Regions from separate parts of the Homo sapiens genome. Here region 2 is linked to region 1. Evidence: fine-mapped expression QTL. A gene starts in region 1. The other region holds a variant in brackets. All regions are shown on one strand. Distances are between the middles of the regions.

Evidence for each region. PIP is the estimated chance that this variant, and not a neighbour inherited with it, causes the effect.
Region 2: its variant is fine-mapped to the expression of INSIG2 in subcutaneous fat (GTEx, PIP 0.98).

What each region holds. Positions count from the first base shown.
Region 1 is chr2:118,084,921-118,093,259 of GRCh38, forward strand. It overlaps INSIG2 (insulin induced gene 2), which reads left to right and starts at 3,551. Exons shown (of 6, transcript NM_016133.4): 1 at 3,551-3,621. It overlaps LOC107985940 (a long non-coding RNA gene), which reads right to left and starts at 3,511. Exons shown (of 3, transcript XR_001739662.3): 1 at 3,331-3,511. RefSeq lists enhancers at 3,256-3,305, 3,316-3,505.
Region 2 is chr2:118,117,179-118,125,517 of GRCh38, forward strand. No RefSeq gene overlaps it. Among named protein-coding and RNA genes, the nearest start is that of INSIG2, 33 kb to the left of the region's middle. RefSeq lists an enhancer at 5,841-7,040. The variant A/G (reference allele first, on the strand shown) is at 5,074.

The sequences.
Region 1 (8,339 bases):
AATAGATCTAGGTTCAATTTCTGCCTTCTCTGCCACTTAGCTATGAAGTGACCTTGGACTGATTAACACTAAGTCAGTGATTCTCAACGCTCAGGTGGGGCTCGGGCACTAGAACTTTTAATAAATCTATGGGTGATCCTAATATGCAGCCAAAGTTAAGAATCACTGCTTTTAGCCTTAATTTCTCATCTGCTATTTGGTATCTATTTCAAATGGGTTTTGAGCATGTGAAATGAGATTTAACTTAGCACAGTGCCTGGCACACAGAAAGTGATTACCATCAATCATGATGTTAAAATACAACTTCAATTTGCAATTTTCTTTTCAATTGCTACCCCCAGCTCTGCCTTTCTTTCAATTCCCAGAATGCACCAAGTTTTTCAGCTTTTGTGCCCTCACACCTGTTCTTCATCCTGCTCTTAGCAGATCCCTCTCAATCTTCAGCTCACGCATGGTCTCCAGGTATTCCCCTTTATTCTCCATCACAATATGGAGATGTTCCATCTTCATGGCACTTGTCTCAGTTTGTAATTACATATGAATTCCACCATTTACTGTGTTTCCCCCACAGGACTCTAGCTTCACAAAGGAATGTGGCTTGTCTGTATTGATTTCCTCCTAAAGTCCAGTGCCAAGTGTCTGGTACCTGCCAGGTGCTCAGGTGATAGCTGGCTTAGTAAATAATCCATTCTGATCTCTCAAAAAAGCAAAATTCCTTGACTTTCTATGTCCCTCAAACATATTTCACATCAAAACACCGTAACAAAAACCAAAACCAAAAAAGTAGAATGGTCTGTAGTGTGTGGGGTTCTAGCTACTGAATAGGAAAATTGCAATAGTAAAAAAATTATCTTGGATGTTTTTAATTTGGGTAATGTTTCCAAGTCCAAGGTTCTTAGAGGCTTACTGAATGGCTTAGTCATCAACCTGTAGGCAATAATTAATGTGACTCCTACAATATCTCACTCCAACAAAGTCAATAAACTTTTGTGGGTGTTTGTATTAGCTAAGTAAAGGGCTTTTTGTTTTCTAACTTATCTTTGATCTTCTTGGTTGGGAGACCAAACAACATATAAAGCTAATGGAAAAAACCTTTCTTGAGGTCAAGAATTATCAAATTGTTGATACTTCTACCTATAAAAAAGACCTCAGAAATCATCTAAACCAATCTCTCATTTTACAGATGAAAAGAAGAAAGCCTAAAAAAATGAATTTATTGCAAGTGATTACACGCATACTGTCTTAGTGCTAAAATACAATCCAGGTTTCAAGGATCATTCACCAGCGTTCCATTGACCACATTACACCAACTTCAAAATAACTCAGTTGTTATGATTTCTTGATGTTCTTAACCAATTTATATTCTGGCATCAATTAATTTAGGATTTCCATGTTTCCATAACAAAAATTTAGTCCAAATTCATGAGCCTGATGTTTAGAACTCACATGTCTCACCATACCTCTTTGTACATGCCAGACTCTGCAATCTGTTTCATGTTTTTCCAACTCTGAGCTTCCACCAGAATGCACAGGCTAACCATATCTGCATATTTACCCTCAACGCCCACTGAAAGACCACATCTTCCATGAAAACTTTCCTCAAATCTGGTCAAAGAAGACAATGGCCTTTTGTATTTCTCCTAGGGATTTTATATTCCTCCTTGTACTGCAGTAGGAGTAACTGCATTAGATATAGGAACCTTGGAACTGGTGCTATATGGTTTTTGCTTTTTAGGTTCTGTCACTACTTGCAATTAATACATATTTAAACGAAAATAAATGCCCCTCTAGGTTACAATGTTCCATAAGGATTTTCTTGAAGGCAATTTCTAAGTGTCTGAAAAAAGCTCGGTTGGAGTAGACATGAACTGGACATACAGGACTTGTATTGCTTTAAGGAAATACATGATGTCAGAACATTTTCAAATTATTGTCTCTTTTCTGAATGCTTTCTCTATTCTTTTAAAAATCATCGTCCATTCTGTATAATTGGCCCAGATCTTTCTTACTGGTAGTGTAAAAACTTACAGGAGTGAAATTTGAAAGCTACAGAAAACATTAGAGAAAACACTAAGATATAGGAAATGTTAGAGAAGCATCATGCAAATACTTGCCTAGAAACATTTTGTTGGAATTCAGATTCTTTTTCAATTTTCAGAAGTAAATGTAGATAAAAAGGTCAAAAAACAAAAATCCATCTTATCGTTTATCAGTTCAAAGTAAATGAAAGGAGTTTACCATCTGACAGTCCTTTGGAAAACTATTATGCAATTACTCTCGGCCCAGATTTCATCTAGAACATTCAAGTCCATTGTAATCTTACCACATCCATACACGTTTTGGGTTAAGCCACCTCCAAATGGAATAGCTCAATAACTAATACACTCAAGAGAGATTATTTTTTCTCTCTTTTTAAAAAGAGTTGCTTAAAAAAAACAAATTCAGGGGGCAGCTCACGCCTGTAATCCCAGCACTTTGGGAGGATGAGGCGGGCGAATCACGAGGTCAGGAGTTTGAGACCAGCCTGGCCAATATGATGAAACTCCATCTCTACTAAAAATACAAAAAGTAGGCAGACATGGTGGCATGTACCTGTAGTCCCAGCTACTGGGGAGGCTGAGGCAGAAGAATCACTTGAACCCGGGAGGCAGAGGTTGCAGTGAGCCGAGATCATGCCAGTGCACTCCAGCCTGGGTGACAGAGAGAGACTCCGTCTCAAATAAATAAATAAATAAAAATAAATAAAAATTCAGAATAGGGAAGCAACTCCTCCTTATGACGAGTACCTTTCGGCACTTATATGGGCTTGCTTTTGCATTGATGGCACCACTTTCATTCAAAAAAAAAAGTTCGCTTGCACAATCTGCAAAGATCTGTTTGGCTTGGTTTCATGTTCTAAAAGTATGGTTTTAGATTAAATGAAAAATAATACTTCTGAAAAATAAGCGGTTATAAGGTTTTTAAGTTTTCTTTATGTTGGTGTAAACTTATAAAGCCCTTCCTATGAAAACTGTCCCCCAAATCACATTACTTGGTCGTCCTCGAGGAACGATTTTGAATGAAAAGCACATAAAGTGCTGTAGCATGGAGACGAGAGACAAATAACTATGCCCTTCTCCCAAAATAAGTTATGACTTACTAGGGGAGGAAAAGGAGCAAAGAGTATAAAGCCCGGTCCTCTGCGGGAAGTACCCGGAGGCCTGCCCCGGAACGCGCTCCTTTCGGCTACGAGATGAGGGGCACGCAGACGGACGCGCCCCTCGGTGAGTGTGCGTGTATCAGTGCATGATTCCTTTACTCCGCCCACAGGGTCTGGGCATCCGTCATTACCTACGGCTGCCTGGTCAGCAAACAACAGCAGATCCGACAACCGCCAGTCACCTCGACGGTCCACGCCCACCGCTAGCCTCCAGTTTCCCGCAGACCGGAAGCCCTTTTGCCCCGGCTCGCAGGTCCACGTCTTATTGACAGCAGGAACCGGAAGCTCTTCTGCCCCGATCGCCTGCGCGCGGCCTCGTTGGCCGCACAGGCGCAGTGGAGCTCGGGCGGAGTTGTGGGAGTGGAGGAGGAAGAGGCGGTAGGGGGTACGGGGGCTGGTCCCAGAAGATGGCGGAGGCGGGGGTGAGTTGGGGGTCTCCCGGCGAAGCGCGGGTGACGTGGTGCTGAGGAAAGCGGCCTGAGGAGGAGGGTGGCCCTTGGGAAGAAGAACTACTTGTGTTTTTGCAGCCTGGGAACCCTGGTGGCAGGTGCGGGGAGCCAGGACCACTGATGGGCCTGCAGGGCAAGGGGCTCCGCTTACCTGAGAGGGGTCCGCAAGGTCCAGAAGGGGACTGCGGGATCGGGGAGGGGGTATAGGAGGGGTCGAGGCTCCCCGGACAGTGGATGAGTGTCTGAGCGGGAAGAAGGCTGGAGGACGGCGAGAAGGGCGACCCAATGGTCTGATGAGGTGGAGGTCAGCGAGCTGTCAAGCATAGAGCTGCCAGGACTTGGGGGCTTGTAGCCTGGGAGAGAAGACTCAGACTTGGGCGGGGATTGGATCCAAAGAAGACAGGTTGTCGTAGTAAGTTTATAATCCACTAAGGAGATAGGGCATTGGGTTGAGGAGTAATACTCTGGCATTTTTGACTGGAATTGGTTACCTATGGAATAGGTGTTTCGGTAAAGCCAAATAATTCTTGCCAGGGCCTAGAAGTGGATTTGATGATAATTACTAGATTTTAGGGTTGCTTAGTGGGGATTGGCAATATGGAGAAGGAAAGCAGTGTGGATTATGGGAGTGGGCGCGGGCAATGGCGCTAACACTTAAGTGATAATGACCCATGTCCAGTTAACGTTGGAAAAAGTTGTTAAAGTATGATATTAGCTAGATGCTCTAGGAAAATATACCATGAAGAACTTGCTGTTTTGTAGGATTGATGAAGAAATGCTTTAAAAAGGAATGGTTAGGCTTGGCAGCTGGGCCACTGAAACTGTTTGGTATCAGTATTGCGGTGGAGCTGAGGACTGCAGGGGAATGCGTGCTCCCGTCCTGGTGCAGAAAAAATAAAAGCAGCCAGACAGTAGCTAGATGGTGTTTTGTAACTTTTGGGTTTGGCCCTGATAGTGAACCACTGAATGAAGATGGATGAAGGGAATGCTACTAATGGGGGCCCCAAAGAAAACAAAAATCAGACGTGTGCTCTTCCTGTTTTCTGTCTTTCATTCTTTCCCTGTACTTTGTGCTCAGTACTGTGTTTTGTCATTGTGTTATGTCGTAGTTCTCAGTTCACATCTGCTGTACAGTGACCAAGCTGTGAATCATGTCCACTCGGGAAAGAGGTTGATTCTGTTTAACTGACAACTGTTGCTTTTGCAGATGGTCACACGGAAAAGGAAAGAATAAAATGCAGTTCAGTAGTTTAAAGAGTTTTCTTTGTTCTCAGAAACTTATCTCGAAACGATGGAGTAACTTTTTTAGGCACTGAGATGTGACATTTAAAACCTGTAAGGGGCTGTAAATGCAGCTAACTTACTGGTTTCTATGTTTGGGTTTTAATGTTGAGAGGAAAGAGTTGCAGTGTTTATAAGGCAAATATTGCTTTTCTTCCTAGAAATTTTTAACGTCTCTAGCCCATGATACATGTAGATGTGTTTTTATTTAGGGAGCATTAAACTGTTGCATTGATTTAAGTCTGTTTTTTTCTAATGTTAGTGCTTATTCTATTTCAAGAATGCTATTCTAATTAAGAGAGCATATGATGAAAAATATGTGAGGTAGTAATTTAACTTTATTATTTAGTAGCTTACGTGACCTAAGCACCTGAAGAAACAGGGTTATCTGAGGGAGTAAAAATACTTCTTTTACGGCTAATCATTGGAAGAGGAATGGTCTTGTCATTTGGTTTTAGGGGGTGTTGCAGTTGTTACAATGCAACAGGTTCTTAAGGTTACTAGAAGATTTTGTATGTGTGTTTGTTTTCAAATGCTTGTTGCCTCTAAGTTGTTTCAGTGGCCAACATGAACCTTGATTTTTATTCACGAAGCTCATAATCACTTATAACTCTTTTTTAACCTGAAAGTAATAATATCAATCCATTAATAGGCAGCCATACACCTGGAATAATGTTTTTCCAGTATTGATGATTCATCATTGATCTATGCAAATTATTTCAACTTTTTTTCTTTTTGTTTAGTATTGTACTTTCCAGAAATTTTAGGCCAGGGCTCAGCGTAGAATTTTTCAAGTCTGGTGGAAAGTTTTTCTTTGTGAATTGTTGAAAACATTATTTTGGTATTAATAGTAGTTTACCAACATGATTTTAAAAACGGTTTCTTGTGTGGCACTTAAATTGTTTTGTACCATGTTTGTGAATGGAAGCAGTGTGGTGAAGCAGGAAGAACTCCGGACATGGGGTCAGAGTGGGTGAGCCTAGTCCTGGTGCTACCTGGTAACAGTTCTGTGATCTTGGAAAGTTACTTAACCTATTTTATTTTGTAAAATGGAAACTAACAACACCTGCCTATTTACCAAGATTGTTTTCGAGAATCTATTGACATATTGTCCTTTAAACAGTATCTTTATACCAGAGACTTTTTCCCTGGTCAGCAAATTATTTGTCAAGTAATCTAAATTTTTCAAATATAGATTTTTAAAAAAAATTTTGGAGCATCAAGTTTATCATTAATGTAAGACTAATATTTAAAGATATAGATCCACTTTGTTTTAAGAAAATGGTATCAGTACAAAATCAGAAAAACAAACTTCAAAGTAAACTAAGGGAGCTTACTTTCCCTTGAAAATAACCCACTCCTCTGACTCCTCTAGTGTGCAACTGATATTATAAACATGCTTTTAAAGGAATTTCATTGTTGCATGGTAGGGGGTGAAATGGTTTTGTGGACGCCTCTATCCCTTTGATGAGTCTGGTCATTTTCTGGCATTCACTATACACGTTTGTGGTAATAAGAACTGATGGTACTGTCTTAATCTTGTTAATCCAGTTGACTACTTTGCATGTCATTGGCCTTGCTAATAGAGTGAGAGAATTGTTAGATTACTGATTCTTTACTTTGTTTGGATCATGGACTTTTTTGAGTACTTTATATAAATTATGGAACTTTCATCCCAGAAAAAAATGCATATATATACAACTTTTTTGTTTTGTTTCGCATGGGGGTCTCATACCCCTTGGAATAGATGATTTCCCAGTTCCCTGCTATTTCTTAAAGCTTTTATTTTTTGTCACCAGTAATTATATACTATTGTATTATGATGTAGTTACAAAATTAGCTTTTTGAATCTCATTCAAATAAATGTCAAGCAAATGTGTTATTTTTAAGGAAAACTTTTGGGGCGAAGTAGAAAACTAAACAAGCACTGCCAGGAAAGGTTAAATAAGCAGCTGTGGTAGAAAACATAAATAAACAGAAAGTCTCTAGCTGTCTTGAAATAGAATGAAGTCTGTAGCAATCAGTGGCTCTCATTGTGGGGACAGTTTTGGTTATCACAAATAGGGGAGGGGGCATTTAGTGGGTGGGAGCCAGGGATGCTAAATGTTTTGCAATGCTTAGAACAGTCTCACACAGCAAATAATTGTCCTGCCTAAAATATCAGTGCCCTTTGACAAATGCTGGTCAGTGTGAGATGGGGGCTAGCATGACTGAAATAGCTTTTTTAAACTGAAGTTATTTTCCTTTTTAAAAATACTATTAAACATAAAATACCCCTTTCCATTAATTCCCTTTTGGAAAAATCACAAACAGAAACAAATGATACGCTGTCTCAATGTGGGTTACTCAAAGTATGCCCATCTTCTAGCAGCTGTTAGCAGCACGTGAGGGCAACGTGCTGTGTCTACTGGGATCTGGGGAAGTAAAGAGTCAACTAATGTTCTTATACAGAGTGTTAGTTTGCTATTTTTTCTTTTTACTTTAAAACATTTTCACACCTTGATCTAGTACTATTAAAGAAAATTTCAAGGTGATTTTACATTTATTCTCATCATCTTTGTGCAATTGTATAGTCACCTGCTTGTTTTGGCTTACTATCTGAGAGTGTATTATAGTTGAGATGGTATTTCAACATCTAACCATCTTTTCAGTAACCAAACACTTTTATATAGAACCATCTGCCGAAAAAGAAGTCTGAGCAGTTGAGATGGAATGGAATTCAAGGTATAGAGGCAAGAGGATGGGTTTTGGAATCAGACCTGAAGTGGAATTTCAGTTTTGATACTGCATGTCATGTGACCATAAGCAAATTGCTGAATCTCTTTGACTTGGTAGCCTCATCTGTAAAATGAGGATGATAATGTCTACCTTTATGTTTGTTTTGAAGAGTAGAGTTACTATATGTCTGGCAGGGAGTAGGCCTTCCATAAATGGGTGCCCTATAAAGAATAATGATGATGATGATGAGGAGGAGAGTTCTGTAGCTACTGAACCTTGCTAAAAGCAACCAGATGATGATGATGATGATGATGATGAGGACGAGGAGAGTTCTGTAGCTACTGAACCTTGCTAAAAGCAACCAGATTATGATGATGATGAGGAGGAGGAGGAGGAGGAGAGTTCTGTAGCTACTGAACCTTGCTAAAAGCAACCAGATGATGATGATGAGGAGGAGGAGGAGGAGGAGGAGGAGAGTTCTGTAGCTACTGAACCTTGCCAAAAGCAACCAGATGATGATGATGATGATGATGATGAAGGAGAGTTCTGTAGCTACTGAACCTTGCCAAAAGCAACCAGATGATGATGATGATGATGATGAAGGAGAGTTCTGTAGCTACTGAACCTTGCCAAAAGCAACCAGATGATGATGATGATGATGATGATGATGATGATGATGATGGAGAGTTCTG
Region 2 (8,339 bases), 32 kb after region 1:
TAGGAAAGAGATAGGTTTTTTTTTTTTTTTTTTTTTTGAGAGATGGAGTCTTCCTCTGACACCCAGGCTGGAGTGCAGTGGTGCAGTGGTGTGATCATGGCTCACTACAGCCTCAACCTTCAGCCAGGGCAAGCAGTCCTCCCACCTCAGTCTCCCTAGTAGCTGGGACCTCAGGTGCGTGCCTGGCTAATTTTGTTTACTTTTGTTTACTTTTTGTAGAGACTGGGTCTCAGTATGTTGCCCAGGCTGGTCTCAAACTCCTGAGGTCAAGCAATCCTCCTACCTCAGCTTCCCAAAGTGCTGAGATTTCAGGAGTGAGCCACTGCACCCAGCTGAAAAGAGACAGTCTTCACAGGTTTTGACTTCTCACCTTGTTTAAAGGTTTAGTGTGAGAGAAGTCTGTATGAATGATTGTGCTGGAGTCATTTTTGATGTGACCCATACTATATAAGTGGCTAGCTTTGTGGGAGCCATGTGCCTGGGCTGTATTGATGGTACATTTTGTAAGAGGAAGAGCAGCATGTTGACACTGATCAGGAAAGCTCTGAAAGGTGTGGGCATAGGTACCGATGGGGTTCAAAGGAAGGAGCAGACCCAGCTGGAGGAGGCCAAGGCCTTTCTCCTTGGATGGTATGGACAGGAAACCCACGTGGACAGATTCGTGCATGTTCTCTCAAGAACCGAAAGTCTGGTCTGGTGGTAGTAAAGTCGCAGGTAGAGGAAGTGGGTGGAAGGGAGGACTTCTAAAACATAGGGATTGGCTTCTCTTTGAGGATTTAAATGGCTCCTGTACTCATGTTTCTTCTCAGGCAGGATCTACAGCTGTCCATGGGGGTTCCTTTTAGGAGGCCTGCAAGTAAGACTGCCACACCCACCACAGTTCCTGGTGTTCCCTTTATTAAAAAGCATCATTGCCAGGCTCTTATGTAAAAAGAAGGCCGGGCGCGTTGGCTCACGCCTGTAATCCCAGCACTTTGGGAGGCCGAGGCAGGCGGATCACCTGAGGTCGGGAATTTGAGACCAGCCTGACCAACATGGAGAAACCCTGTTTGTACTGAAAATACAAAATTAGCCAGGCATGGTGGCACATGCCTGTAATTCCAGCTACTCGGAAGGCTGAGGCAGGAGAATCACTTGAACCTGGGAGGCGAAGGTTGCGGTGAGCCAAGATCACGCCATTGCACTGCAGCCTGGGCAAAAAGAGTGAAACTGCGTCTCAAAAAAGAAAAAGAAAAAGAACATTCTGAGTCTGATCAAGGTGTGTGATCTTGGGTTGTGGTGGAGAGAGCCAGGGAAGAGTCAGCTGTGGGAGAGAGAGAACGCAGGCTTTAACTCTGGGTGAGTTACTCGCAGACTGGGACGCTGGGCATGTTCCTCATGCTTTCTAAACTTCAGGTTGCTACCTGTAAGATGGAGACACAATACCACTTTTGTCTGAGGGCTGTTAACATTAACTGTGATAACATTTCAAAGGCTTAGCTCATAAGGGCTTTCCAGTGAAGTATTGGTTCCTTTCCCTCTCTCCTCATTCACTTCAAAGCATGAGTGTGGAGCCAGCACATTGGCATTTACTTTGGATTAGGTTGCTTCCCTAATGTTTCTGTCAAAATGAGAGGAAGCATAGTACACGAATCACTGTGCTTGCTGACACCTTGCCACAGCTCCACTCATCGGTTAGTTAACAGGGAGCAAATTCTTAAGGACATAGGACAGAAACTGGCTGGTTGTTATTATACTGATTAATTGATTGATTGACGGCAGGGATGAGGGTTTGGCCAGTTCCGGCAGGGGCTGCTTCCATGGAGGGAAGCTTAGGTAGGGTGCCGCAGGATGGCATGAGTCTGCTGGAGAGCGAGGAAAGGAGATGGGAGGTAGGAGATAGATTTTGTCAGCATCTTATTTTCACCTAGGGATGATGGCTCTGTCCTCATACTTTATAGTGTCACCACCGTGAGAGTGCAGTCTCCTGAGGGAGGAGTTACATTTTAATTAGCCACAAGGTACCTGATTTCTGATGTATCAGTCCTTTTCTCTAGGCCTCATTGTTTCGGATTATTTTTGCCCATGTCCTCCACTTGCCTACTCCTTTCATTTGTATCAGAAGGAAACCACCAAGCAGCCTGGAAATCCTGTTACCAGACCTCAGGATATTAATTGTCAAGTTCTCCCCCACGGTTACACAAGTGCTGAAAAAGTGGTTCTCTTTCAGTAGTGTCTTGTCAAAATGCCAGGCACAGTTTGTTTTTGACGTTTGCTGCTATTGTTAAATAATAGTCTTGCTTCTGTCATAGCTAATGTTGACTTGAAGGCATTTGGAGGGCATTTCTCAACTCCAGCCTTAACAGCAAGACCTGGGTCTTGACATATTTTTCTTGCTTGCCCAGGGCAACTGAGTATAAGGGTTGCAACCTTTGCTTTTCTAAGCTCCAAGAAAATTTCAGCTGGGTATGCACCACCTTAAGCCATAGATCCAGTCGTATTCACACATGCACACACAGACATAAACCCACAGACACAAAGACACACACACACAGACAAGTTGAAGTTCTTGAAGTTTTGCCATCCTAGGAATCACATTTAAATAACTTAAACAGTATCCCATATTAGGACTCCTCAAATCCAGCTGTTCTGCCTTGGTAAACCTCTATCAGAATGTCATACTTAATTACACATCTGTTTAAAAATCAACATGCATTTTTATTGTTTCTGTATTTGCAATGGAGCAAGCCCCTGAACGCTGCTCATCTAGCTGCATGCATGGCGTACCATCTGTCAGAGAGAAGCTGGGTTCTTCATGCACAGCGCTTTCTTGTGTTGCTATGTCCATTAGAAATTTCATTTCTGCTCCCTTTCCCACTTTTATGTGAAGGCATCTTTTGAGTTTTTCCTCTCAAGCCTTACAGGCGACATGTAGAGACCTTCTTCTAATGGGATCGTTATTTCTGAAATGTTCACCATTTATGAGGTAATGGAGAGGGGGGCAAGAAAAAAATGGGCAGAGTGAGTGAGAACTGCTCAAGAATTCTGTGGAACTGCGTAGGCGTTGGCATTATTTGTATGTGAAGAGGCCAAGAAATGCACAGTTGGTTTCAAAATAAATACCAAAGGAATGGTTAATTACACAAGTCTGTTTTGCATTTCTAGAAAAATAGAAATATGTCAGTCATTCGGATTTCCAATAACTAAGGCAACATGGGTTTGGAGGCTTATTTATATATGGAGTTGCAGATTGTAGACCTAATGGTGTGTTCTGCTACATACTTTTCCGTGAGTATCTCTATGTCCCTAAATTCAATTTCACTTTCTACCTTTGAGAATAATTTTTAGAGATTTCCAAAATTACAAAATGTGAGCATATGAATTATTCTGTCATCACCTCTTACATCTCTCAATTTTTAGAGATTTCCCAAATTACAAAATCTGAGCATGAATTGTACTACCATCACTTCTTTTTCTTTCATGAGGTAATATTATTTGAGAGACTAATTTTAGATGTCAACAGTTTGTCTTCCTCCGAGAGGAGTTTGGGTTTCTTTACGATAAACATGCAATTATCCCATGATGACTCGTATATATTAAACAGCCATTTAACTGACATATAAGACTCAGAAGAATGGTAAAGTTGGAAGAGGCACTAAAATTCATTTAGAACAGCCCAATCTTGTCATTTTACAAACGCAGAAGCAAAGCCACAAATTGATTACGTTTGTCCCGAGTTCTACAACCAGTCAGTGGCAGAATCAGACATTTCAGTAGCTTTAGCGTGATGTTACATTTCAATTTATGAAAGATGGAAATTTAATTTTATAATTATGCAAGGTTTACAGCAACATAGCATGTATGTTGACAACTGGTAGGAAATGGACATTTATGAATTATGAATGTTTCTATTATGAAGGGCAATTATTACCTTAAGTAGTAGCTGGTAATGAACACTGAATGCCTACTATGTGCTTTACATACACCACCTCATTTCAAGTCCCCAATAAAGCCATAAAGTTGATATTACAATCTATAAAGTATAAGGTCAGTACTTCATATGTGAAGAAACAGAGGCTTAGAGAGATTATACACAACCTGCTAAGGCCACACAGCTAGTATGTACAGCTGGGCATAGAGCCAGGCCCTTGTTCTTTTTCCCAGGATGCAATCTGCACTGCCTGTGGGTGTCAACACAGAAAGTTGGTGGAATCTGGTTTATTCCTATACAATGTTAGATGTGGAACTTAAACATATATGTGGAAGTTATGCTCTTGCCCTTTCTAAACAAGTGTAAGTTTTAATTGAGGCAAGGAACAACTTCACTAGTATAATTCTTGGCAAAGAAAGGAGTTCTGAGCCTGAGATTTACTATTTTGTGGTGCAGTAAGTTGGATGTCTTGAAACAAGAGGTTTGGAGAAAGATTATTTGCGTCATGACTTATTAAAGTGGAAATATTTATAAATCAAAGAATTGGGTTATATGGTCTCATAATGAAGAAGCAGAATGTAAGGTACACCTTACCAGATGCAATTTAATTTATGACTTACATTTGAACCTCTAAGTCATTAAATATAGTCTTCAATTTTAAGACCGAGGTTGGCATGTCCAGAAGAGAATAACTATGAAATGCACACATCGTTTTCTCAATTTTCATTAGACTTGCATATGAAAAAAATCACAAGCATTATTTATGAAGTTTGAAGTGATTTCTGCATACTTTGATCTTTTATATTTTGACATTCATGACCTTAGTGAAGACAGGACAGTAAAAATATGATTAGGCTAATTGTCAGATCAAGGACTCTGATTAATGAAAATAAATGGAAGAGGTTGATTATTTTTTTCTTCCTCTGCCCCCCTTTACCCTGGAAAGAATATCCTAGAAACCACATTAAACTGCACTTCCCCTGAGCACATCCTTCCTAACTAGGCTAGTCGTGAAACTGGAGTGCAAGGCCAGGTGGAGGAATGGGGTTGACTCAATGGCAATCCAAGGCTGACAGCTGTGCTAATGGATGACTTAGGCAAGAAATACAGTGATTGACTCATGAAATGAAAAGCAGGACTGGTCTCACGGACAGCTGGGATTC[A/G]GACTTCAGAAAGCCTCCATCAGGACTTAGCTTCTTTCCAGCCCTTTGCCCTTTCTGCTGTGTTGGCCTTAGTCTTGTGCTTCACAGTGGCAGGATGGCTTTGGCAGCTCCATCCTCATGTCCTCTCCCCTCCACATCCCACCTCTCTGAAGTCTCAGCAAAAGTCTCATGATTTATTGGCTTTGGTCAGGTCAGGTGTCCATTGCTGAAAACCAATTCCCATGGCTGGTTCTCCACAGAAAAAAATAAAATATGACAAAAATGAGGGTAAACGTAAAAAACAGAAAACAAACAAAAAAAACTGTCCTATGTCAGAGCCAAAAAATCATAATGAAGTGGAAGCTGCAAAAGCAAGAGAAAGGCATGAGTTACAGAGAGAAGCAGAAGTTGGAGATGAGGAAAAGGGGAGGATGGGGGAGAGCGAGAGGGAGGGAGGGAGACAAAGCATCTGACATTTTTCTACTTCCCCTGAAACCTGTGCTTTCCTTCCAATAAACTCTTTAAAAATGATTTAAAAGTTGAGTGGTTTTCTGTTCTTTGTAACCAAATGACCATGACTAAGATATTTTGCTAATGTTCCCTTTACCAAGTAAGGCTGGATTCCATGTGACATGTAAGTTACAGAGGCCCTACAGTTGACTGTGTTCCTCTGTGGGAAGAGAAAACTGCTTGCCAAACAGATCAGAGATTTTTTCTTTTTGGAGCAATTAGATATATGGTTTGAAATAAATGATCTTGGAGGCCCATGAAATTTGAGGTTCTGGGGTTCTCTGGTTTTCAAACAATACCTACACTCAGTTTCATGCAAAACTAACCATTTTTCAGCCCAGCCCAACTTTCTCACTTGGTGTAGAGGAGGAGTTGCTGTAGTTAAGCATTAACCGGCTGCACTTCCTCTTAAGTGGAATCTTCTTTGCAAGTGAGAACATTTAGGCCAAGGGGGTTGGAGACACCATTGAAGCAGTTCTCTTGAGTCTGAGCTGAACCACAAGGAGACCATTTCAGAATCTTGTTTGAAATGAAAACTAGGAGAACTGGGAAAGGAAATTCTAGAATCTCTCCAAGAAATTCATCCCAAATTTTAGCTACTTTCATCTTCATCTGGCGTTTACCACATACTAATATTAGGTTAGAGGGCTCGTGAGTCAATTTTTTCTTTAAGATAATAGGAATGCATTTTATTCAGTTTCTGCTGTAGGGCCCAAAGTAGGCAGGTAGTGGGACTACTTTATAGTGCCACGATTTGAGATAAAGACCGCTGTTTCTGTTCCCATACCCCTCACAGAGATTCTGTGTCACTAGAGGGCCAGGTTTCTGGGGCTTGCTGTCGATCTCACCTTGCTGGCTCATCGTGAATGAATGCAGGTGGAACACCACCAGTCACAGCATCAGAATGCCTTTCTGAAAGCCTCTTGTGTGGATTGTCCAGGAGTGTCACCCTTAGTCATCTGGCTTAGGTCCCTGCCCCACCCAGCTAAACAACTTTGATTTTTGGCAAGTCAAGTAACTCCACTGGGATAGAATGTCTTTGGAATTTCCGAATGAAATTCTCTTATCTTGCCAAAACCATTATGTCCTTTCTTAGTAAAGTTGATACACTGGGTCAGTCTCCCCAGATATGTCATAACTCCTTTCTTTTTTCATAATTACTGGAATGAATGTGGAATGGAATGAAAAAATAATAAAAATCTCACCATCTGAAGCCAAGCTATGCAGGGAGATGTTAGATCACTTTTGGCAACAGAGAAAGGCTCTGCAAGCTGGACTTGGAGATAAATACCAGCAGCTCATCCCTTTATGTACTATATTTTAATGGCCATCCTCTCCCCTGAGGGCTGACTAGTATTCTCTCCTATTGGCTAACATTAGTTCTTACTTGTTCTGGGAAAATGCCTGTTTCCAAGGGTGACACCCACAATCTATAAACAAAGAATGAAGGTCATGTGCATGGGAATTGGAGAGAGAGGAGGTGCTTATAAAAAATACAAGTCTTCCCACCTAGAAGGATTTGGCCCTTGTGGAATTTTAGTTTTCTTTACTTCCAATCCCCCCAGTCCTAAATCATTTTATATATCCTAGTAATATTAAACATGAATGTATTCCACAGCTGGGTGATTTATTCAGGACTCAAAAAGTATACATTATTTAGATAATATTTGATTACATCATCTTTATTTCTCCTATGGTGCTGGCCCTGCAGTCCTGTGAGGTGAGGTAGGCAGGAGTTGCTATTAAACCATTAACCCATGTCATCCAGCAAATGACAACCTCTTGCTGCCACAAATACAGCTTCTGTGCATTGTGAGGGGCAGCGATGCACAGCAGGAAGGCTCTGGATAAAGGTCCAAATACCAGGGGTCTAGTTTTAGTTCTCCCGGCAGCTTGCTTAGCAGACTCAAGTTCCTGTTTCTTCACGCATGTAGTGAAGCCAGTGGGTGAGTTGGTCTCTAAAAGCGGCAACAGAGCACAGTGTCTCAGGCTGGGGCCCCGGCTCTGCTGCTCACTAGCAGTTTGAACCTGCGCAAGTTATTTTACGTCCACGTGCCTTGCTTTTTTTTTTTTTAATTTGTAAAATGGTGGCATTATAAATTGATGTAAGAGTTAAATAATCTAAAACATACAAAATATCTAGAAGAGAACTTGTCTCATAGTAAGTGCTTAGGTGTAATTATTAGCAACATCACCATTTAAAATCCCCCACCAAGCCATGAGTAGACCTTGTCCTACCCACCATGGAGATATAAAAGGAGGACTGAGTTTTCCAACTTGATTTGGGAAACAAAATTTATGTATAGGAAAGATAGAAAACAATAAAAAATTACCTGATTGAATAAAAAGTTGATTCTTCCTCCTTTCAAATAATACCAATAAAAATGAGAAAATATAGACCTTGTTGAATTTTGGGGCAGGGGCCTTTCTTTACAGCCAGAGTGATGTTTGATTGGAGATGATCTACAGACCCTGTGATTTCTCCATACTCTACCTTCCCGCAGGAACTGGCACCTCCTCGGCCTCTCTACATCTCAGTTTCGAAAAAGCAGCACATCCTCTCAAATCAATTTGACTGAAAATAAAGATATAAAAAGACCTAAGCGACATAATCACAAACGTAGATATGATGGATAGATGTCATACTATGTGCCCTGAAGTTAGGGAATATATTTTAGTTTCGAGTGCCCATGGAACAGCCACAGTAATTAATCCTACCATTGACCATTGCAAAGAAAATCTCGATGTCAAAAAGTAGCAATAACTTCAGGCTAACT